Linked DNA regions of Homo sapiens. The protein of the gene in region 6 purifies or fractionates together with the protein of the main gene of each other region. This does not show direct contact. Each region holds a gene or a part of one and is shown on either strand. Other genes may lie near its edges.

Region 1 (3,500 bases), on a different chromosome or scaffold from region 6:
TAACTCATTTATTTGCTTTATCTTAGGGTAGTATGTGTTTAATTAAAATTTAAAATCTATGTAAACATCTATGCCAGAGATTTTGCCTGTAAATAGTAAGAAATTAAAAAAATCAAAAATCTTTAACGTGTAAGAAAAAAAGTTCTAAGTAAGAAAGAGATAAACAACTTTAGCAAGTTAACTACTTATAAACTGTTTAATGTGCTTACCTCAACTAATGTATTTTCCATTGCAGTTCTCCAACTTTAATGATTTGTTGTATTGTTTTCCCTGTGGAGTGAATATTGATGTATTTTCATACCTGAGTAATTCTTGGTTTGTATTTTCACCTTTTAGTAAAGGAGACTGTAATAGTAAACTTGATCTTGTAATCTGAAGGAAAATATACATCCATTTCCTAGGGATATGAGTCAGTTTCTTTCAACTGTGATAGCTTAGACAGTGGCTATGTTTATGGGATTATGTATCTTTAAACATGAAGAATTTATCCCTAGGATATCTACACCTTTCCTCAATAAAATACTGGGTTCATCATGAATTGAATCTTTTAAGTTCTTTAATCTGGTTACATTTTTAGCTTATATTGCCTCTTGGTTTTTTTTTGTTTTTTTTTTTGTTTTTTTTTTTTTTTTTTTTTCAGTAAATATCCTGAAGATTGCATTTCTGGGAATTATTCCAGGTTCTTGTTTCAGATTAGTAACCCTTTTCTTGTTTTGTTTTTGCTCAAGTAGAGGGAGGGAACAGAATTCCAAAAGTATTCCCTGTGCAGATAGAAGTTAAAAGGGCTTTTATTAGGTTACAGGATCTGGTTCTTACATTCCAGCAGACTCTCTTGAACCAGTATATTCAGGGAGCCATTTGTAGTGACTGACGAATAAAGGCAAGGATCTCTTAAAATAGCATTCAAAGTAAAGTTTATATAATTTTCACCTATACCTGTACATCCTAAACTGTGGTACCCATACCCTGGGATTGTACAGTAGTGTGCCAGATAGTATGTGAACCTAAAGATTAAGTGAAATGTACCTTCTTTGATACACAAATTTACTGGAAAATAGAGTGGAACATTGTTTTAATCATGGAGGAACTGTAAAGTGAAAAGCAGAATTCAAACATAGAAATTTTGAATGTAACCAAAGATTTCAGAGAATTTTTTTATCTTGGAGCAAGTGACCACTGGTGATGCCACCCCCCACTCCACAGGGTTATACGTTTTTTTTTTCTCCTTTATTAGAGATTATTTTGTGGAAATGTGTGAGAAGTACTCTTATTTCACTGAGGTGTGTCTTTTATTTTTGGCATTTTTTGAGTGGCCCATCAAACTTTCCAGATAATTGGCTCTTCGTTCCCTGAAAGAGCTAAGTATAAGCACTTCACTTGGAATATTCACTCCTGTCTGTTGATCAAATTACAGAAACATGAATGCTAATCCTTAGGATCTTTTTTTTTTAACTTTATTATCCTTTTCTGTAAAGTAATTCAAAAGTGAATGAAACTTTTAATAGTATTTTTATTAGAAGTTACAGAAAATTTTTGACAGTCTAAATTAAATTACATTTACAAGTTGCCTCTCATTTATTTTATTTCTCAAGGAATGTTTATAGATTAGTATCTAAGTCTGTGGTTTATTTTAACATATAAATCTTTGATGTGATAGACTTACTTTAAGTGATAAATATATGGTTACATAAAACATTTTAAACTATTTTATAAAAAATATTTATAACTTTCACTTTTGTAGAAGAATACCTGCAGTTGACTTTTGATAAATCAGTATTTAAAATTTCTGCAATTTTGCATCCAAGTACCTACTTGAATAAAATACTTCTGGGCAGTGAACAAGGAAGCCTGCAGTTGTGGAATGTAAAATCCAAGTAAGTATTTTAGTTAGAAAATAATATAGCTGTCACCTTATCCTCATCTACTACTTCCTAATGTATACTTAAGTCTCATTTCTCCCTGCCCTTGTATATTTATTTGGAGGGTTGTCTATAAATAACAGTTGGTCCCCTGTATCAGAGGAGTCAATTAACCTGGGATCAAAAATATTCAAGGAAAAATAAATAAATAATAATACAACAATAAAACATCACATTTTAAAGTAGTACAGTATAACAGCTATTTACATAGTATTTACATTATATTAGGTCTTATAAGTAAGCTAGAGATTATTTAAAGTATATGCATAAATGTGTGAAAGTTATATGCAAATACCACACCATTTTATGTAAGGGACTTGAGCATCTGTGAATTTTGGTATCAGCAGAGAAGTTGGGGAAGTCCTGGAACCAATCCCCCACAGGTAGTGAGATATAACTATATGTTTGCTTTTGGAGTTGTTGCTGGTGGCATCACATATGTGAAAGGTGGCATGTGATCCTGACACATGTTAGACAGCTTCATAAATGCTCACTGAAAAGTATGTACTAATGACCTAATAACTGTAAAGAATTGCTATAGAGAAGGCTCTAATAAAGGTCTATGAGATCCATCAGAAAATAATAATAATGAGATTATTACTAGGGAGCTTCTGATTTTCCATACATGAAGATTTTCTATACATGAAGAAGGTAAAAGATGGAAAGGCAAATCAATAATTTAGTGCTAGCATTTAGAAATGATTTTTAGGGTTAAAAGTACTTCCATAATCTCCCATAGATATGGCAAATATCTAATATTGATGTAGCTAGAGGGCTGGATACATGATTTTGAATACTTCTATCCATTATGTAAACATTTATCAGTAGAAAAAGGTGGCAGCTCACACTTCTTTGTATAGCATTTTAAAAAGCAAACAAAAATATTTGACCATCCAAATTGTTTTTTTCCAAAGTCCTTTTAAATTCAAAAGGGAAAATAAGATTATTAAAGGTTTGATGTTTTAAATCAGTGTTTCATTACAATTTAACAAATACCATTGACTGCCTACTTTGTGCTAGGTTCAGCAATAGTGACTGAAATACTGTCTTTGCCCATTTACAGAATTTAATACATGATTTAATATTTTAATGATAATTATAATGATTTCAGATACCTCTGTTTGCTCCATGGATGTGTTATTTATCATTCATGACTTGCTTCTGAAATTGAGAGCAGCATTACTGTTGTCATATAACAGTCATATAACATGCAAATAATATTTTTATTAAAATATAAGTTATTCCCTTTCATGATGTTTCTATAAAGATACTGCAGTCCTAAATTTTTTTTACTGTAGCCTGTAATATAACATGATTTTTACACACGTATTTTTTTTTCCACTTAGGACATTTAATTTCTTAATGAGGTGGCATAGCATAGTAGTTAGTTTGAGACCTAGAATTTGTCTGGACAATATTACTAACCTTGTGACATTAGCTTAATCATCAGAATAGTGTGTGGAAGAGTAAGAACTTAATAAATATCACCTATTATTATTTCACTTTTTAATGTGTAGCTGATATTGTTTTCCTCCAAAAAAAAAAAAATACAGCTTTCAACTATTTTTCTTCTTGTAGTAA
Region 2 (3,500 bases), on a different chromosome or scaffold from region 6:
ATGTTTATTTTTATTTTTGAGACAGAGTCTCCCTCTGTTGCCCAGGCTGGAGTGCAGTGGAGTAATCTCGGCTCACTGCAACCTCCACCTCCTGGGTTCAAGCGAGTCTCCTGCCTCAGCCTTCCAAGTAGCTGGGATTACAGGCACCTGCCACCATGCCTGGCTAATTTTTTTTTTGTATTTTTAGTAGAAACTCAGTTTCACTATGTTGGTCAGTCTGCTTTTGAACTCCAGACCTCAAGTGATCCGTCCACCTCAGCATCCCAAAATGCTAGGATTACAGGCGTGAGCCACTGTGCCCGGCCTGTTTCTTAAGTATTTTTATGGTCATTTTACAAACTTACACCTGTGAGAACCAGACTAAAATTCTCTTGGTACCAATACAGACCTTATACAAAATTATTCTATGGCTGTCTCTCTCTCTTCATCACCAAAACTTTAAATGGATAATGACAGATCATGAAGAGAACCAAAGAAGAAAATGTGGGGATAGTTCAGTTACAAAACACTAGCAATACTAATAGGAAAAAATAAAAAACTTCAAAACACAATATCCCATAGAGGATAAAGTCACATGATAATGTTGCTATTGAACTGTGACTTAAAAACTGTTAAAGAAACAGGCAATATCCTATTAACAAAAATTTATGAGTTACGAAAATCTTGCAAGACAGTGACATAAGTAATCAGTCTAACACTTTTAAAACTAGTGATTTTCAAAGATTTAGGAACTAGAGAAAATACCACTTTGTATTACCCAACTCAGGTTATCTTTACACATTGCATTTCAATTGAATTTACTTTGATGAGTTTAGAGACCCTAACAACTAGGCCAGGCACCATGGCTAACACCTGTAACTCTAGCACTTTGGGAGGCTGAGGTGGGAGGACTGCTTGAGCCCAGGAGTTTGAGATTGGCCTGGGCAACATAGGAAGACCCTGCCTCTACAAAAAAATTTAAAAATTAACCAGGGTGTGATGGTGCATGCCTGTGGTCCCAGCTACTCAGACACTGTGGTGGGAGGATCAGTTGGGCCCGGGAGGTAGAGGCTGCAGTGAGTTGTGACTGCATCACTGCACTGGGTGACAGAGGAAAACCCTATCTCAAAAAAATAAATATTAAAAAATAAAGCATTTTCATAATCTGGTTTAGCCAGTCAGAAGTTTTGGTGAGCAAAAATAAAAGACTGATGTGAAAAGTATCTTAAACTATGGAAAGTTCCATTAAGTTTTAGGTTTACTTACCCCACATTCATAACACTTAGATTTATCAAAGTAGTTTCGCCTTCGGATGAACTCAGCTGCTCTTCCATTGTCAATAGCAATGCTTGCTTTTATCACTCTACCAAATAACTAAACAAGAGAAAAATGTAAATGTAGAATGTATTTCACTGAAACCTAAAATTAATTATTTAATCAATTTTCTCAAATCTTCAATTCCAGTTTATTTTGGATTTTTTAGCAATTGTCACTTAGGTGTGATAAATTCTATTCTGTAGTATTCTTATTCCTGAGATTCCACCAATGTTTTGAGAACCCAGTAGTTTGACCTCTTTTCTTTCTATAAGTTAGATATCTTAAGAATCTACTGATATCTGCTAGACCTGATGATCCACTATATCCCCACATTTTTGGCCTGGATGAGCATAAAGGCTTTGGGGCTAAAAACCTTGATGGAGATGAATAGCTTACCTGTTTGTTGTTTATTGCCCTGGTACAGTTTTGTGCAGAGTCTTTATCCAAAAATAAAATAAATGCAACCCCTTTACTCTTCCTGGTATCTTTATCTTTCATGATGGTAACCCTTAAAGCATAAACAAAGAGTTAAAAATGAGGCAGCAATAAATAAAACAGATACTAATACTTGAAAAATTCATTTTAAAAAGGGCTAAAAATTTATAAGATAAATTAATACATTTGAAAAATCAGCTATCTCTTCAAAGTCAAGGGATATCAAGAATGGAAATGGGAAAGGGTGATACTGATTTAACAGAAGTGAGCACAGCTATGATTAGGAGTTAATCAGAGATTGAAGGGTGAAGTAAAGAAATTACAGAGACAATGAAATCTTAAAGTGTAACCACAATCCCTCTTCCATGCTAACTCCCTCACCTTGCAAAACAAAACAAAATAAAGGTATACTTTACACAAAAAGTAAAATGATTTATTTATTTTTCTAAGTGTTAGAATCAAAGTATATTCTTAATATTCTTTTAAAGAATCTTCAGAAAAATAAGGAAAAAAACCCTCCAGAGCTGGTTGTGGTGGTGCGCACCTGTAGTTCCAGCTACTTGGGAGGCAGAGGCAGGAGGATGCTTGAGCATGGGAGTTTGAGAACAGCCTGGGCAACATAATGAGACCCCGATCTTTAGGGAAAAAGAATCTCCAGTTCTGTGGTTTTTAGCCATACCACCCACCAGGGTGTACCTGAGTGACAAGGAGAGTTATGAGAGCACAGAGCCTGCTCTTTCTCCTGCCCCATCCACATCCCTAGTCATGGAGGCCCTTGCCCACCGTATGTCATTTAACATAGTTTAAAAACAATGTTCAACAGGGCTCTTTGGAGAAATAGCGGATTCCAAGGCTACAGCAGGGCAGGTACAAGAGGAGCTTGGAACATCTTATGCCAGAAGGTAAGAGAGTGCAAGAGTGCGTGAGCGAGTGAGAGAGAGAGAGACGGAGGGAGGAATGAATGAATGAATGATGGGGCCAAGAATACAGCAGCCAGCTGGAAGGAGCTCCCACTGGCCAAATCAAGGACAATTTGAGCATCAAAATAATTCATTACAGTAATAAATTATAAGCCACAGAGAAGGTAGGAATTTATAATTCTTACTGATAAAAGACCAATAAATAAGTGGAGGAGATGGGAGGGAAGGCTCTTGCTTACAACAGAATGCCAAGGGATGACTGGTGAATGTAGAGGGAATGCTGGAGTTGGAAAAATCACCAATTTGACAGAAATATTGAATAAGGTAGTTGCTTTATGTTTTGGAATTTTTCGTAATGTTTGTGAAAGTTATCAGTCTTTTTTTTTAAAGTAGTATTTCAAAAGAAGTATTGGCTTTCTACATCATCCTCAATTAATGATCTCTCATCTGTTGCCTCTTTTCCAATTCCACTGCTTTTTTCTTGTCCATAGGGGCATTACTGTTTTAACAGTCTATTCTTATTGGTTCCTTTATGGTAATTTTTTCTCTTATAATTTTCTCATATCCTTAAGTAGTCTTCTACTTAAGGAATAAATAAAATCACACCATTCCTTTGTTCAAAAATCTTTGGTTCTGTAAGTTGCCTATTCTTTGTCCCACTGTCAGTATCCTTGATGATTTGGCTCCCATCTCCTTCATCTTTCACTGCTCCTTCCCACGCACACACTATGAAGTCTACCCAAAAGAAACCACTCAATGCTCCAGTAGCATGGCCTGTATTTCCCCAAATTTGTGCCTTTGTTCATACAGCTTCTATCTTCTTCCACCTCTGAATCACTGCTCATTAAA
Region 3 (3,500 bases), on a different chromosome or scaffold from region 6:
CTCCCCGTCTCAACACGAGGCCACTCCAGGGGCAAGGCGGCTGCTGCGAATCACCAAAAGAACAGGTAACAAGAGAACTTGGTCTCTAGTACCACGTCCCCACATAATATTCCAGAGGAGTGTTCCGTGGGATCTTCCTAGGAGTTGTTTGACAACCTTTCTTTACTCAGATAACGTTGAAAACACTGAATTAAATGAAGTTTTTCAGTAGTGCTATGTAGACCTATGCTATTTTGTTTTATTTTATTTTTGAGACAGAGTCTCACTCTGTCACCCAGGCTGCAGTGCAGTGGCATGACCTTGGCTCACTGTAGCCTCCACCTCCTAGGTTCAAGTGATTCTCCTGCCTCAGCCTCCCAAGTAGCTGGGGCTACAGACATGTGCCACCACACCCCGCTAATTTTTGTATTTTTAATAGAGATGGGGTTTCAGCATGTTGGCCAGGCTGGTCTCAAACTCCTCACCTCAAGTGTGATCTGCTTGCTTCAGTCTCCCAAAGTGCTGGGGTTACAGGTGTGAGCCACCATGCCCGGCCAACCTTTGCTATTTTAATGTGTATTTTGAGACTTTAGGAGCACAGATGGGCTTTATCTGTAATTTTATTTGTCCTGTCTTACTACTTTCATTAAATAAAGTTTTGTTTAACATATCTATCATGAAGTTGCAGCTTAAATAAAATAACTAATGATGTCTTTAATGTGAATACAGGGATGAAAGAAGAGAAGAACCTTCAGGAAGGAAATGAAGTTGATTCTCAGAGCAGTATTAGAACAGAAGCTAAAGAGGTAAATTTAAGATTATTGTATGGTTTTGTTCATGGCAAACAAAGGCTAGATAATTGGTAGTTTTACCTTACAATAAATTTCTAAGTACTTCATTCATATATTAGGTAAACAGTCTTTCTTTTTACTTATAATTTCTTATGAGAATTTCCTGTAGTTCTATGTATATCAGTATTCGCTGCCCTTTTAAAGTTTTTTGTTTGCCGGGCGCGGTGGCTCACGCCTGTAATCCCAGCACTTTGGGAGGCTGAGGCGGGCGGATCACGAGGTCAGGAGATTGAGACCGTCCTGGCTAACACGGTGAAACCCCGTCTCTACTAAAAATACAAAAAATAAAGTTTTTTGTTTAATTGGCCATTACTTTTTTTTAACTGAGTTTTTTCTAATGCTATGCATCATACAAAAGTTGGAAATTTTATTTTTTTTAAAACTGAACAAACCCTAAAAATATACAGCTCAGATGTAACCATCATTATCTTTTCCATGGATTTCTTCGAGCTTTTTCAGTCTTGCTCTGTTGCCCAGGCTGGAGTGCAGTGGCATGATCTCGGTTCACTGCAACCTTTGCCTCCTGGGTTCAAGCGATTCTTGTGCCTCAGCCTCCCATGTAGCTGGGATCAAAGGCATGCACCACCAAGCCTGACTAATTTTTGTATTTTTAGTAGAGACAGAGTTTCTCCATGTTGTCCAGAGTGGTCTCGAACTTCTGGCTTCAAGTGATCTGCCTGCCTTGGCCTCCCAACGTGTTGGGATTACATGTGTGAGCCACCACACTTGGCCTTCTTCGACCTTTTTGTTTATATATGCATGCATGTGAATTTGTTTAATGTTAAACCCATGTTTAGAACATAATGGAGAACTCTACAGTGTATCATTTTACAGCCTGCTTTAACTTTACCATGTTAATAATTCTTCAAGAAGTTTGTTTTTACTGACCACATGATTCTCCATTATACAAATACAGTCTTTTTCTGGACATTCAGATTTTGTTTTACACAATTTAAAGTAATATATTTGTACATAAATCTTTGTGCAGGTATTTGATTATTTAGGAATCATTAGTATTTGACTTAGAGTCATGGTTGTCTAGCCTGTGGAATCTGGGTTTTTTATTATTCCATACATCTGTAATTCTAATCTTTCATCTTTAACAGGGTATTGTCTATTTAACATCAAATAAAGAGCTTTTCTCTCAGATTCTGGATCATGTGAGATTCTGCTTAACTTAGATGTTAGCCTGGTACTTACATCATACAGGTTATTAGAGGTACCAGATTTTAATTCTGTCATTCAAATTTATCCACAGGCTTCAGGTGAGACCACAGGAGTTGACATCACTAAAATTCAAGTCAAGAGATGTGAGACCATGAGAGAGAAGCACATGCAGAAACAGCAGGAGAGGGAAAAATCAGTCTTGACACCTCTTCGGGGAGATGTAGCCTCTTGCAATACCCAAGTGGCAGAGAAACCAGTGCTCACTGCTGTGCCAGGAATCACACGGCACCTGACCAAGCGGCTTCCCACAAAGTCATCCCAGAAGGTGGAGGTAGAAACCTCAGGGATTGGAGACTCATTATTGAATGTGAAATGTGCAGCACAGACCTTGGAAAAAAGGGGTAAAGGCAAGTATTTCTATACTGTGTATTGCTTTAGGTTATCAAAATTACCAAATTCAACCCAATTGTTGCCAGTAACTTCCTGGCAACAATTGGGTTGAATTTCATTTGCCTTCTATCCACAGGTAGATAGTAATATTTCTGATATTTTTATACAGAGGCAAAACGAGATGAATTCTTTTCTCAGAATTTAAAATTGCTATTTAAAAAGCTTTGTGTAAAACTTTCTATGGTGCATCTTTCCTCTGGTATTGAATAAAAACAAGGAATAGAGGAATGGTAACAAATTTAAGTGGTATTGTATCTACATGGTGACCACCTGTAGTGACCACCATGTGACCACAAATTGCCTTTGAATCGTTTTCAGTCTCTTTTTAAATGAATTATTTGTGGTATTTCTAGTACTGAAGGAGTTTTGATATTTTATTCTGAATTATTCCCCATTTAAAAGAGTCTATTCTCACTGCTTATCAGATATTTTCTGCCCTTTGTAGCTAAACCCAAAGTGAACGTGAAGCCATCTGTGGTTAAAGTTGTGTCATCCCCCAAATTGGCCCCAAAACGTAAGGCAGTGGAGATGCACGCTGCTGTCATTGCCGCTGTGAAGCCACTCAGCTCCAGCAGTGTCCTACAGGAACCCCCAGCCAAAAAGGCAGCTGTGGTAAGAAGTATATTCACTTTGTGGTGCTTTATTCTGTGTGGTAGGAAAGCAGGAAAGACTAACTCTCCACTAGCATTCTATCTTGAGTATATCACTTCCTGGCATTTCCTAGCATTTTAGTAATTTGGGTTACTACTGTATTTTATACTTACAGTTTGATATTTGTGAAGTAGCAGGACAGGATTTTTTAAAAGCTAATTTTTAGGTGGCAAGATATTTTGCTTATTTATATACTCAACCTTTAGATTATCGATTCTTAGATTCACAGGCTTAAAGAATCATAGCCACAATTCTAAGAAGGCAGCAAAAGAAAATGAATATGCTCAAATTAAAAAGCCTGACTCTCACTGAATTACCTGACTCTTCCTTTTGTAGGCTGTTGTCCCGCTTGTCTCTGAGGACAAATCAGTCACTGTGCCTGAAGCAGAAAATCCTAGAGAC
Region 4 (3,500 bases), on a different chromosome or scaffold from region 6:
TACATTGATGAGCCTCATAAACATAATATTGGCCAAAAGAAAATAAACTGAGTACATAAAAACCCTCATCAAATTAAGGGTTACAGAGAATAAAAAGGTACTTCTTTAATCAAATAAGGGATATCCAAAACTTGAAGGGCTCATCACAGTTAATAATAAGACACTGAAAGATAAGAATGTCCACTATCACTAAATCTATTCATCATTCATAGATGATGTTATGATCATATACATAAAAAATCCAGATGACTCTAAGGGTAAATTATTAGAATGAATAACAGCATATATCAAGTTATAAGTTTGCTAGCTATAAAATTTTTATACAAAACTGAGTTAAAATTTAATATGACAAAAACAAAAAATGAAATTTAAATAAATCATAAATGAAATTTAATTTATCATAAATAAATCATTTATGACAGCATAAAAAACTATAAAGGAACTAGGAATTAATATGACAAAGATGGTGTAAAACAATTATTTGGTGCAAAAGTAATTGTGGTTTTTGCTATTATTTTTAATGAAAAAATAATGATTTTATCAAAAAATATAAAGTATAGTTAAATAAACTCAGAAATATACCAAGTCCTTAGACTAGAAGACCCAATACTGAAAAAGTATCATTTTTCTCCAAATTGATCTGCAGAGTAGTGGTAATCTCAATCAAAATCTCAAAGAGTCTTTAGAATATTATAAAATGATTATAAAATTTATATGAAAATGCATGAAACATGAAATATTTAACATAATCTTTAAGAACAACAAAGCTGGAGGAGTTCTATACTCAATATCAATATTTATTATAAAGCTATAATAATTAAGACTGTGGTACTGGTAGAGAGAGAGACAAATAGAGCAATCAAGTAAGACTAAAAATTCAGAAACCAACCAATCAAAATACAGACACAATATATGTCTGCAGTATCAGATGTAGTACTATAGGTGGCAGAAAAAGTATGAACTCTTGAATCTATGATACTGGGGTTTAGTTATTCATAGAGCGAAGACAACAAAACTGGACTGCACATCACATGTACTACATCCAAAAAAGTCAATTTTGGTGAATTAAAGGTTTAAGGTTATCCATTCTAAACACGGCCTTAAAATTCAAACAATCTAAACAAAAGATAAAATTCCTAGGTATTGCAATATGCATAAAAGTACAGTCTATACAAATCACACTTTAAAAAATTTAAACCATTTTCCTGCTTAGAAGTTAAAATAAGAATTATTTATAGTACATTATAAAAATCTCTTATAGAAACCTCATGAAAATCTAGAACTGTAGTAACTAAGCACTGAGAGTTCCACCTTCATTACCTCTCTGGAAGCTGGTCTATATCCATAGCCAGATGGCAAATTTTTGTCTTCTTCACAACCTTTGGCTCCCGGACTAAAGTGTAATTCAACATGAAAGCGTTCTTCTGAGGAAAGATCCTAAGAAATATGACAGAACATTTTCAAAATGAGAAACTTTAAGCTCTTTATTTATGTCTGGTAAAACACAAATCAAGAGCTCTGTTTACCTTATTAGGATCCTCATAAAGCATGATAACAATCTGAGTCATGTAGTTGAGCTCATTGACAACGTTTAAATAATCCATAGCTCGTTTCCACTGTTCATCCTTTGATTCCTGAACAAAAGATACATGTGGTAATCATTTTCTCAAACTGTGTTACTTGAAAGTCACTTTATTGTCACTATGGTAGCTTGTTTAATCCTAGTGATACCACATAAAGTGAATACTTATCATATGCAAAATTTTAAAAAATAATTCCACTACATTTAAAAGTCTTAGTATGTTATTTAAGCTTGTTTTGATAAAATATTTTTAAAATCTCTACAAGTTTGAGTATCCCTAACTTGAAAATCCAAAATCCAAAACCCTCCAAAATTCAAAACTTTTTGAGCACTAACATGACACTCGAAGGAAATACTCATTGGAGAATTTTGGGTTTTCAGATTAGGGATGCTAAACCAGTAAGTATAATGCAAGTATTCCAAAATACAAAAACAATTCCAAATTCCAAAAAACTTCTGGTCTCAAGCACTTCAGATAAGAGATATTCAACCTATATTAGAAGTTCTAGTGGTAACCTTTTTTAACTGCTTATACAAAATGAAAAATAAATAATTTCTTGAAATATGACAAACACTAATGAATTCTGAGGGTAAGAGACCGTTTTTAACTTTGTCAGGTTCCAAAGTACCTAGTATAGTATCATATTTCATAACCACAGAATACTATCCTATAACAGGAATGCCATTTTTTCCCACCATCATATAGTTCATGTATGCAATATAGGCCTATCAACAAGTATCCCTATTACACTGAAGTGATATTCAAAAATCAGAAGAAGGAGGCATATGTAAATTCTATTGATCTTACCATCTCCTTCACCATTCCTCCATCTTCATTCTGAGAATCATTGGTCTTTAAACATGTAATCATAGAGCATCAGAACTGAAAAGGATCTTAGAGAACATGTACTACAAGCATTCAAAGTAGAAAATTCTATCTGAAAAGGCAAAACTACTCAAAGTAAAGTCTATAGTCAACAGTTAACAGGATCTACTTAAATTATACGTACATCACAGATAAATTTCCTTTGTTGTATACTATGTAATTACATTACAAATATATAAAAGGACAACATTTCCTTTTTGTATACACTAAGAGTATACAATATTATGGACTTTAGTACAGAATGCACCTTGTTTTAAAAGCAAATTATAAGACCACACATTGACTGTATGCTTTTTAAAATTCAGCGTGTATTTTATTTCTGTTTTAGACATTATACATTCCGTGTGTGTGTGTGCGCACATGCATGTGTGCAAGTTTAGGAGGTAGTATGTGAAAAGATGTATTTTTTTCAAAATTGATAAGGGAAAACATAAATTAGCATTACTGAGTTTCACTAAATGTAAGTTAGCACAAATGATGAGTTTAAATACTGAAAATTTTCATTAGGTGAACAGATAATTGATCTTGTGATTTTGTGATACTCCAGTATTAAGAACACCATTTAATATCTAACTCAGTGTTGCAGTTATAGATTTTGCTAGGTCTTCTCTAATAAATAGATAAAATTAAGTAATATTTAGTAGTAACTTCCAGAACGTAATTAATATGTAAGAAGACACAAAAATATCTTTTTAAATTAAGGCCCCATTACACATATTCCTGAAATCTTATTTATAATCTTAGTTCCTTAACAAACTTTACAAATAATTCTACAGAAAGATTTTACCCCATCCATTCTGAATAATTAAAAATTACAAAGGGGAATATACTGAGTAAGATTTTAATTATATTACTTACAGATTCTTACAAGGATAATAAGAGTTGGGATAATGAAAACAAAACATTTTGGCAGACTTTAATTTTCATCTTAGTAAATACATGTAATTATTTTTCCCCCTGGAAGCACTGATTTTTAAAATAATGAAGTTGTTCAGTTTTTGTTTTAGAAATGCAGCCTGAATTCAATATATG
Region 5 (3,301 bases), on a different chromosome or scaffold from region 6:
ATAACAAAAGCAACATATTATTTGAAAATACAAAACATAACAATAAAAAAGGTGTAGCTAGTACTAAATATGTCATTAGCAAATTGTGTCCATTTTAAATGTATTATCACCCTAATTTTTCAGGGGCTCTTAGTGCCAAAGACCCTCAGCCCAAAGTTTTCTGGTGAATTTGTTTATACTTACAGTAGTATGTACTATTTTAACACCATGAATCTCAACAAACAATTCTTAAGCATTACTTGATTCAACTGCAGGTGATATTTAATTTGGTTGATGTTGTATCAATTCAGAAGTTACTCTTTTATATAACATCTCCTAAAGTCTCTTTTTGGAAGCTTAGTATTTGTGTTATTAAACTCATTGTAGTACTGTCAAGTACTCTAGATGCTTCTGTAGTAAATATTAAGAAAACATGCCTATGTGATATTATAACAGGTATTTAAAATTCTCAAGCTAGAAATGTTAAATTTTTCATAGAAAAACTTAAAAAAAGGCCCATATTTGGATTTTAATGTATGATGGTCTTTATTTACAACTTTATTGGCAAAAAAGAAAAGGGAAACTTTTAAACAATTTAACACAGGGCATTGTAGCTGATCCTGTCAGATAAAAGAAGTTCCATTTTAAATGTCCATCTAATTGTCCAAAGATACACAATACTGAATCTGCATACGCAGTTTCCTTTATGAAGTACAGTGCTCATGTTTTAGGCAGTCTTCTAAACATACAAATACAGAGGAAATTAAATCACTCATTAAAAACTGTGTCAAATGAAGGGTATTTTAAATATAAGTTTGTTGTTTCTGGTAATAGCACATGCCCAAATGAAAACCAAAAGATGGAAAGGCAGATACACTTCTTACTTGGGTGGACAGTTACAACATCAATCATTTTCTGCAATGACCATTATATTTTCAATTTATCATGAACTACTCTGAACTTACTATGAGATGTAGCCAAAGTCAGAAGAGAAGATGTAGGGACAAGATGCCTTTTTTGCAGGAGGTTAACTCCTCCAGAATCAGCATAGGAAATAAACATCCTGTTGATTCTAGGTGGAAAGAAATTAATGTAGTCAATTTCAACTCGTGCTGAGCTGACTTAATTTTTTCAGCGATGTGTTTGGTGTCATTCTTCTAAATCAAGTGTATTTAATTCTTCTTCTAGTTCATCCAAATCCTCTCCAGTGAAAAGATTTTCATCAACAGGAACAGCATCAATGGCTCCATTTTCCGTTCCCTCCCTCTCGTTGTCCTCTTCCAAGTCACTTCTTTCACCATTTTCAGCCCTACCTCCAGAAGCTTCACTTAATTTGTTTTCTAAATATAAAAACTGGAATCAGTAAGGCGTAGAAGCAGAAAACACCATTCCACATTAGCAATAGACAACATAGACTGATACTACACTTCCTCTTTTCCTTTTCTCCATGAAAGCCATTTCCCCAGAATTACTCCAGCAAGAACTGATCATTCTTTTCTGAGCTTATCTGTGCCAATTATCTATACCTACTATAAAATACTGTTTTTCACTGTAGCCATTTGACTACTTAATGGTTTATACATTTGAGGGCAGGATCAATCTTCTACACCTCTGTGTTCCCTACATGACCTAGCAATTAGATTTTAAATAGTCAATTTCCATATAATATTTTATTTGACTAAATGGTTATGGAAACCAAAAAAATGTTTGTAATATAAGCAGCTACTTGGCTTTTGGTTTTGCAAATAGTATTTAAATCATGCTGTTGTAATGCTGTGATTGTGACAGCAGAAAATCTTCATCATGTAATCAAATTGTTAAAAAAAAACATAGTGCTATACAGCTACTTTTTCTTATAGGTTATAAATAACTGAGAGAAAAAAAATGCTGCCTTTTCTTGTTCAATGCCATTGACAATTACACAGACATTTTTTAACAGCCTAATTTAGATTTTAGTTATTTCAAACATCTCTGATGACAAAGTCTTGGGAATTTTATAATCTCTGAATTATTTGCAGTTGTGCCTATTGTCACCAAAGCCCCTACTTCTACAAAGAGCAAGTCAATCTGAATACTGGCAAGATAGTGGTTTGCTAACACTCTCAGATCTTGGGAGGGCAAGCTGGTTTTTCAAGTTACAGCTTGTGTGCTTTTATTGTAAAAATAATGTTCAGCCTTTTCTGTCTCAGCTTTTGCCTTAATGGGCATTTCTTCTGCTGTTTTCTCCCAGAGCAAGCATGCCAAACTTTTACCCCTTTCTTCAAGTACCTAACTCAAGGCACAATTAGACATAAATTATACCAACAATCCTAGACAGCCTTCCCTCCATTCTCATACCTAACTCATTATTTATACTTTCATGTATTGCTTCTATAACTAATCTTTTATCATCAACTTCTCCTCCTTACCAGATCCTCTTCCTCTGAGCTACAGATACATTTAGGTTTTCCATATCCTAAAAAGCCCTTCCCATGACCATGTCTTCCCTCTAAACATTAAGAGAGAGAGGACTGTATTCATTTTTCTTCTCACCGTTATCATTGCAGTCTCAATGAAACTGGCACCCTATTCCTATAACCAATTACAACCAGTAACTTATTTATATTCTTTTTCATCCTACTTGCTTCTTTGGAAACTTGTTTCTTGATTTTTCTCTGACCTTCTCAATGTCTTTCCTAAGCATTTCTTCTTTTACTTACCCCATAACACTGATGTTCTGTAGGGTGTTCATGTCTACACAATATCCTAGACAGTGCACTTTTGATAATCAAAAAATCTCAAACTCATGAGGTCCCGAAGTGAACTCATTGACTTTAACTCCAAGCTCATTTTTGTCTCCTTCTAGTTTCCATTAATGATTTTAATATACACCCAGCTGCTCATGTCTACAGCCTTTCACTATTTATTACTGCTTTTATTTATGGTCAAACCACACATTTATGTTACCAATCTGGTACCTGCACACATCTAAGTTTGCCAAGCCTGGTATAACCCCCTTTAGATAACTTCCTAGTTCTTAAAATTAGGCAAAAGTTAGCATACTTACCATCTTTATCTGAAGTATATGTGCTGAATCTTTCAAGACTGGCTACAGTAATACCTGTTTCATCTACATCTCTTGGGATGTACAGGCTTAAATCTATGTCATTTACACTCACTGAATCATCAACCTTTAACAACATATAGAAAAGAAAGTTGTTACAAATAAGAACAGTTTTCTTTTACTCCTGACATTTATCTTAATGAGCCAAAATTATCACTGATCCAAGTGAAAACAAAAGACCAATTACTGGCCAGGTGTGGAGGCTCACACCTGTAATCC
Region 6 (3,500 bases):
GCTGAGGCAGGAGAATGGCGTGAACCCGGGAGGTGGAGCTTGCAGTGAGCCAAGGTCGCGCCACTGCACTCCAGGCTGGGTGACAAAGCGAGACTCCGTCTCAAAAAAAAAAAAAAAAAATTTAATCCACAACTTGTATCATCCTATAAAAGTCAGAGTAAATGTTGAAGATTTATCTATAGATATATCTATGTAGATACATATTAGGCATTTATGCATATCAAGTTTTGCCCAGTTAGGATTCCTTACAAATTTGCTTCTGTCTCAAATTTACTGGGAAGGTCATGGCGTTTCTAGCTGAAATTGTGCACAGAGAGTTGCTGCCTAGAAAACTCTGTGGACAAGAATTATTGAAATAACATGTATAAAGTACAGAGCACAGCTCCAACAGAAACAGAATAAAACAAAAAGGTAAGCTCTCAGTTTGAGAATAGCCTCTGTTCTTTTTAAATTTAAAGATGGACTGCTGCTGATAGTTCCTAACACAAATGCCATGAGCATTATTATTTTTAATGACATCTTATCAATTAGCTCCATAATGAACACACTTAAAATATGTTTTGTTTACTATACATGTTGACTTCACAAATTATCATGCTTGAAACCCTCTGTAAGCAGTTTGAATGCTTATATTAGTAATTCTGCTGGGCTTTGGTCTATCCTGTAAAAACAGTAAAGATGGCTTAGCAGATTTTTTGTTATTTTTTTTATGTTATCAACATCACTCCTTGTCATAATTACTTTCTTTACTATGAGGATGAACATCATCTGGAAAGAGTTTCTAAACCAAAATACTTGACACCTGCTGTGAGGATGGTGGTTTTCCACCTGGCTTTAGGCTTGTAGGACAATGGCTGGATAATACCATCCATCTAGCTCCTGGAAAGACTGTGGAGTGTGAATCTGAGTCAAGAAAAGGAGGGCCGGGCGCGGTGGCTCACGCCTGTAATCCCAGCACTTTGTGAGGCCGAGGCGGGCGGATCACGAGGTCAGGAGATCGAGACCATCCCGGCTAAAACGCTGAAACCCCGTCTCTACTAAAAATACAAAAAATTAGCCGGGCGTAGTGGCGGGCGCCTGTAGTCCCAGCTACTTGGGAGGCTGAGGCAGGAGAATGGCGTGAACCCGGGAGGCGGAGCTTGCAGTGAGCCGAGATCCCGCCACTGCACTCCAGCCTGGGCGACAGAGCGAGACTCCGTCTCAAAAAAAAAAAAAAGAAAGAAAAGGAGGCAGCAATTAACTTCACGTATTAATTAGTGAGTAATATGACCACACATTGTCTAGAGTATACTGTCTATGAGGCAGGGGCATGAGATACATATTTGCTCATCAAAATGCCTCATATCCAATATGCCTAAATGTTAACCACTGAAAACATAAAAAAACAGGATTGGTTTAACAGTAGACTATTATCACAATTCTAGAACTTATGACTTCCTACTGGATTTCGTTATACCATAATTGCACATACAAAATATCTTTCAAAATCAGTTTAAAATCAGTAATGACACATTTATGCTGAAATGTAAATATTTACTTGCAAAATGGGATACATATATGCCAACATATAGCCAGAAGAAATATAAAATTATTCAAGACACCAAATAAGCCTCAAAAAGTCCTTAGATCTTAAAACTCTATGTTTCATAAACATAGAGGCAGGAAGAAATGACTCCTTTACAGTTACTAGAGCAACTCTAGATTTCTAGGCCTCTGGTCAGATGACACAGCCATTTTAGCTGTGCTCTCATTTTAGCATAAAAGGGAGTTTCTCATAAACCCAGACTAACGTTTTCAAAATTCATAATTGTTCTTTCCCTATATTTGCCATTAAAACCTTGATTACAAAACAACTTCAGAGACAGGTCAAGGCTTGACAACCAGAGGCAATAGCATCATTGTTATGTAACTCCTTGCTAAGGCTAAATTGCAGGTCAAATGTGGTTCCCTTTGAGGGAAGGCTGCAATCTCACCTGCCTTTGTGAACTAGTAATCCTGTGATCTACCAGTGAGGATTAGCATTTCCTTTCTAAATGCAGTTTGGCAAAAAATTTGGTAGGTACCAAACTGAAAGCCACAGGAAGGGATAACAATTTCAGACAGGATTATAGTGGGGAAAACAGCTAGCTACTAAGGCATTACAGCAAGATATACCAAAATTAAAGACACATATACCTTTTGACTTATCTTTTAGAAATTATTCCCACAAGTACGCGAATATATCTATGCAAATATCTCCATTGTAACACTGTTTGGAAGAGTAAAAAACTGAAAACAAACTAAATGCCAATAGAGGATCTGTCTAAAAAATTAATAGACTATACACACTGATATAAAAGAATAAGGTAGATTTATATTCAAAAGAGCTCCATGATAAGCTAAAAATTGAAACAACTGAACTCATGGAGGTAGAAAATAGAGATGGTTACGAGAGGCTGGGAAGAGCTGTGGGGTGTGTGGTGGCAGGGGAGGGGCGGGGATGCTTAATTAGTACAAAAACATAGAGTGAATAGGATCTAGTATTTGATAGCACAATAGGATGATTATAGTCAACAATAATTTATTGCACATTTTATACCAACTAAAAGAGCATAACTAGAATGTTTATAACAAATGATAAATGCTTGAAGACAATGGATATCCTATCTACCCTGCTGTGATTATTTTGCATTGTATGCATGTATCAAAATATCTCATGTACCCCATAAATATACGCACCTACTATATCACTTAAAAAAAATTTTATGGGTACACAGAAGTTGAATACAGACCAGTGTGTAAATGACTGTATAAAATTTTCAAGCATATATACCCACTGGTATACTAGCCAGCAGATACGTAACACTTAAATATGCTAAGGACTGCTTTAGATGCTTTTCACATATAAACACACTTAATCTACACAACAGCATTATAGATTTTTTTTTTTTTTAGACAGAGTCTTGCACTGTTGCCCAGGCTGGAGTGCGTGGCGCTATCTCGGCTCACTGCAAGCTCCGCCTCCCAGGTTCATGCCACTCTACTGCCTCAGCCTCCCAAGTAGCTGGGACTACAGGCGCCCGCTACCACGCCCAGCTAATTCTTTTGTATTTTTAGTAGAGACGGGGTTTCACCGTGTTAGCCAGGATGGTCTTGAACGCCTGACCTCGTGACCTACCCGCCTCGGCCTCCCCAAGTGCTGGGATTACAGGCGTGAGCCACCTTGCCCGGCCTCATTATAGATATTCTTATCCCTATTTTACCAATGAAAAAGCATCTTGCCAAAAATTAAATGTCACAGGAAGTAAGGAATAGAAATGGAACTCAAACTCAGGAGTCAGGCTCCAGAGAAGATACTTTTACCTTTTAGAGGCATTAAAAATCATTCTGGGAGAGGAATTATTACGGAAGGTAAAGAGGGGAAGGTTTTCATTTTTCATATTGTGCATTTCTTCTTGAATTTACTGACATGTAGTACTTTTTTTATGAAGTAGTAACAGTGGTTAACTGGGTGGTAAACT
Region 7 (3,500 bases), on a different chromosome or scaffold from region 6:
GCAAGAACTCGGAAACAATGGAGTCCAGAGTGTAGCACTCTTCCAGCCTCTCCTCCAGTCATTTCTTCTCAGGCTGTACCTGGTACCTCCAACTGCAGCCAGGGATGGGTGGCCTGCCCAGGCCAGGAACCTGGAGAGGAACTTCTAATGTTACATAGAACCAGAGCAGTAACTTCCCAAGAGTTCCTCTCATCTTCCCATAATAGCTTATTTTGGGGAAATCTTAGTTGGATGTGCAGGTGGTAGTGGCCATAGCTGGAGTGTCAGTCTTCCAGCTGCTACTCTTTTATTGAATGGTGACTCCCATACCTGGCCGCCCAGTCCAACTGAGTCAGATGCTCCTCAGCACAGCTAGGAGTCTGCACCGTTAATCAGCTCCCTGGGAAGCTTTTCAGCCAGCTAGGTCCCTGCCAGTGGCCTGACCTTGGGAATGGCTGTTACTGGGTGACTGAAGCTCTTCTACCTTCTGACTTCAGTGGGCCCAGGAACCATTCACAGACTGGGCTGGAGTGCAGAAGCACAGAGCTGTGGTGTAAGGGGACTGGAGAAGAGTGGGAGGATGTCCCAGCTTCCCCAGGTAGCTGAGCTGGGGAAGTGCACAGCTGTGGGGAACTCTAAAGTATCTGCAGCTCCTGTTATGGTTTATGGATTTGTGCCTGGGCTCTTGTGGCAATGTGGCCTCCATTGGGCATACCTTCTCATCTAACATGTTCATCCTCTGATTCATATCCCAACTCCCCAAATAAACCTACATGATAACCAACTCCTCAGATAACCTAGTCATTCTTCATCGTTCAGATTGACCATTTTGACATGCAGAAAGCATCATATAAAAAGCCCTTTAGCTTTTTAGCATCACCTAAAGCCCTTTCAGCACACATGCAGACACATACACACACCCCTGTTTGGACTGTCACAGCTCATACGCTTGCCATTGTGAATTTTCAAATCTGCATTCTGTAGGAGTAAGGAGATCCCTGTTCATCTGGGGCCTAGCATGAGGTGCAGCCCAGAGGAGGCATCAACTAGTGTGGAGAACAATTCAGGCCGGTGAGGAGCAGCTCCAGAGTAGCTACATGGGTTTGTCTTGGGAAAGGACGGGTTGTGACAAGTTTAAAAAGGGGAGCATCTTGGCCCAGGCATTGCCCGGAGATAAGTATGATGTGGCCTTGGAAGATACCTGGCTGGTTTGATGTCTTCTGGTGAGGTTGTGTTACAGTGGGTAGAATCTGGGCATTGAGCCTGGCCCTGATTATGGTAGAGGAGTTAGAGCCGGTCCTGCCTTCTCATAAGTTCAGATAAAGATTGCACAGGCTGCTGGTGGAGACCCTGGGAGCTCTGTCACCAGCTCAGGTCAGTCAGAGCTGGAAAGGTCTTTCTAAGGGCCTCACGGAAGGAAATGGGTGGGCAGCTGCCAAGTGCTTTCTGGTTGGACAGAACGCAGCTTCTGTGAACATGGGTGGTGCCAAGTCTTCATGCACATGTGCCCTTGTTTCTTACGGGGAGGCTGGAAGTAACCTTTTAAAAAAGTCTCCCCAGAGTGGAATCCTCAGACTGTCCCTTGGTGTTATAATGTTTGGGGTCACAACTTAGCCAGTAAATGGCTGAGTGACACCTGGAACCTGGGTCTTGTGGTTCGTTGGTGGTTTGCACAGTGGAGTACCCCAAGTCCTGCCCTTTCCCCCAGTGTGTCGTTGGGATGGATGCTTTGAGTTAGGAAACTGGAGCTCAGATATAGAAGGGCTTTCTTGCCTCTGCTGTGCAAGTAGAGAGTTGTGCTGATTGGGGAGAATGTTATGAGTATGTAGGGGGCACTCTACAGAGAGTGGGGTGAGGCAGCAGCTACAGGCTAGTCGGCTCTTTGAGGTGCCTCAGCACCCCCAAACTTCCCTGAATGTTACTGTCTCCCAGCCGACCGAGGGCAAGCTGCCGCAGCATGCAAGTCTTTTCTCTGTAATCGTTGGTAACCCTGGAAGGGGAGGCTGGACCTAACCTTACTGGAGGTGTGGTTAAAGTTCTAAATTACTAGTTAGATAACCAAGAGGCTGACAAACTTCTGGGGTATAATAATTCATCTGTGAGGGGAGTCTTCCAGTTTTCCCATGATTCCCTAGTGCTCCTGCACTAGTGCACTCTGTGCTTCTGCTCCTGGTAGGCCTTGCTAGCTGCCCTGTGCCAAGCATCCACATATTAACCTTGAAACTAGAAGGTATGAACTCTGTTTGGAAAGGGGCTCAGGTAGGAAGTGAGCTGCCTCAGGTCATTGCTAGTTGGAATGGCCTTTGAGCAGGGATTTCTGACTTGAGGGAAACATCAAGTATCTACTATGTACAAGGCACTTGAGGTGGGCACCGCAGGAAATTTAGTGCCCCCTTGGTGCTTCACATGTAATAAGTTTGCACTTTGCCTGCCATTCCAACACAAAGCAGAGTGAACACTGGTGTAAAAGCACAGGGTATTCTCTGGGAGCCCTGCAAAAAAAACCCCAAAAACCCAGGCCGGTCGTGGTGGCTCACACCTGTAATCCAGCACTTCAGGAGGGCGAGGCAGTTGGATCACCTGAGGTCAGGAGTTCAAGACTAGCCTGACTAACGTGATGAAAATTCTAAAAATACAAGAATTAGCTGGGCATAGTGGCAGGTGTCTGTGATCCCAGCTACTGGGGAGGCTGAGGCAGGACAACTGCTTGAACCTGGGAGGCGGAGGTTGCAGTGAGCCGAGATTGTACCATTGCACTCCAGCCTGGGAGACAGAGCGAGACTCCATCTCAAAAAAAAAAAAAAAATTTTTTTTTTTTTTAAATTACATCCAGCTTTGCGGGAGGAAGGGTAAAGGTGAGCTTGGTAGATCTGGCCCCTGAGCTAGAAATTGCTGGCCAGGCAGAAATGGTAAGCTCAAAGGCTAGGAGGCAGGGAAATATAGGGGACTTCTGTAGATGAGGAATGAAAGAGGGAAGGAGGCCTTAGGTCAACATTTGATTCTCAAGAGATGGCTTATGGGTCTTCGGGGCCTTGAGTTGGTGACTAGGGCACCCAATCCCTTGGTTTTTAGGAGGCCCTCAGGATTGCACTGTGAGACTTGTATTCTTGAGATTGGTACTCTCCAGTTAACCAGATAAAGTGGCACAAAGCAGTATATATAGCCCATTTATTTGCTTTTGGTCAAGTGGAACTCAGCTCAGAGTGGTCTGAAGCTGGGAAATGCAGCTGGAGATCCCTTTGCCAAGTGGTAACCTAAGCTGGTGTGTGCTAGGCTCTGTGCTAGTACCCGGAATGGGGTTTGTATGGGTTCCTATTCTCTTTTGTCCTTTGGGAAAAGGCAGACATTTAGCATCTCAACAGGAACTGGTCAAAGAAGGCTTTCCAGATAAGTGCCACCTGAAGGTAGTCAAGGATGCTTGGACCTTAGCCAGCATAGAATGAGGCTCAGGGGCAAAGATAGTTCAGTCAGAAGAGATGCTCTTTACAGAGGCTTGGAGTCCAGGAACTCTGTTCTGGAAC

Evidence for each region.
Region 1: the proteins of THOC7 (region 6) and WDR36 fractionate together in Homo sapiens (co-fractionation; one large-scale study listed by BioGRID). This does not show direct contact.
Region 2: the proteins of THOC7 (region 6) and ZCRB1 fractionate together in Homo sapiens (co-fractionation; one large-scale study listed by BioGRID). This does not show direct contact.
Region 3: the proteins of THOC7 (region 6) and ZC3H11A purify together in Homo sapiens (affinity purification with mass spectrometry; 2 studies listed by BioGRID and IntAct, with this or other methods). This does not show direct contact.
Region 4: the proteins of THOC7 (region 6) and PPIP5K2 fractionate together in Homo sapiens (co-fractionation; one large-scale study listed by BioGRID). This does not show direct contact.
Region 5: the proteins of THOC7 (region 6) and ZC3H15 fractionate together in Homo sapiens (co-fractionation; one large-scale study listed by BioGRID). This does not show direct contact.
Region 7: the proteins of THOC7 (region 6) and ALKBH5 purify together in Homo sapiens (affinity purification with mass spectrometry; one large-scale study listed by BioGRID and IntAct). This does not show direct contact.

What each region holds. Positions count from the first base shown.
Region 1 is NC_000005.10:111,098,848-111,102,347, forward strand, and holds part of WDR36 (WD repeat-containing protein 36), read left to right. Parts: intron 1-1,741; coding exon 1,742-1,874; intron 1,875-3,497; coding exon 3,498-3,500. UniProt on the Homo sapiens protein: Part of the small subunit (SSU) processome, first precursor of the small eukaryotic ribosomal subunit.
Region 2 is NC_000012.12:42,316,095-42,319,594, forward strand, and holds part of ZCRB1 (zinc finger CCHC-type and RNA-binding motif-containing protein 1), read right to left. Parts: intron 1,805-3,500; coding exon 1,693-1,804; intron 1,354-1,692; coding exon 1,246-1,353; intron 1-1,245.
Region 3 is NC_000001.11:203,847,623-203,851,122, forward strand, and holds part of ZC3H11A (zinc finger CCCH domain-containing protein 11A), read left to right. Parts: coding exon 1-65; intron 66-708; coding exon 709-785; intron 786-2,088; coding exon 2,089-2,404; intron 2,405-2,892; coding exon 2,893-3,059; intron 3,060-3,434; coding exon 3,435-3,500. UniProt on the Homo sapiens protein: Through its association with TREX complex components, may participate in the export and post-transcriptional coordination of selected mRNA transcripts, including those required to maintain the metabolic processes in embryonic cells.
Region 4 is NC_000005.10:103,175,801-103,179,300, reverse strand, and holds part of PPIP5K2 (inositol hexakisphosphate and diphosphoinositol-pentakisphosphate kinase 2), read right to left. Parts: intron 2,436-3,500; coding exon of another isoform or gene 2,391-2,435; intron 1,635-2,390; coding exon 1,527-1,634; intron 1,438-1,526; coding exon 1,321-1,437; intron 1-1,320. UniProt on the Homo sapiens protein: Bifunctional inositol kinase that acts in concert with the IP6K kinases IP6K1, IP6K2 and IP6K3 to synthesize the diphosphate group-containing inositol pyrophosphates diphosphoinositol pentakisphosphate, PP-InsP5, and bis-diphosphoinositol tetrakisphosphate, (PP)2-InsP4.
Region 5 is NC_000002.12:186,506,561-186,509,861, reverse strand, and holds the end of ZC3H15 (zinc finger CCCH domain-containing protein 15), read right to left. Parts: intron 3,150-3,301; coding exon 3,026-3,149; intron 1,320-3,025; coding exon 1,129-1,319; 3' UTR 501-1,128; downstream 1-500. UniProt on the Homo sapiens protein: Protects DRG1 from proteolytic degradation. Stimulates DRG1 GTPase activity likely by increasing the affinity for the potassium ions.
Region 6 is NC_000003.12:63,853,806-63,857,305, forward strand, and holds part of THOC7 (THO complex subunit 7), read right to left. Parts: intron 1-3,500. UniProt on the Homo sapiens protein: Component of the THO subcomplex of the TREX complex which is thought to couple mRNA transcription, processing and nuclear export, and which specifically associates with spliced mRNA and not with unspliced pre-mRNA.
Region 7 is NC_000017.11:18,197,328-18,200,827, forward strand, and holds part of ALKBH5 (RNA demethylase ALKBH5), read left to right. Parts: intron 1-3,500.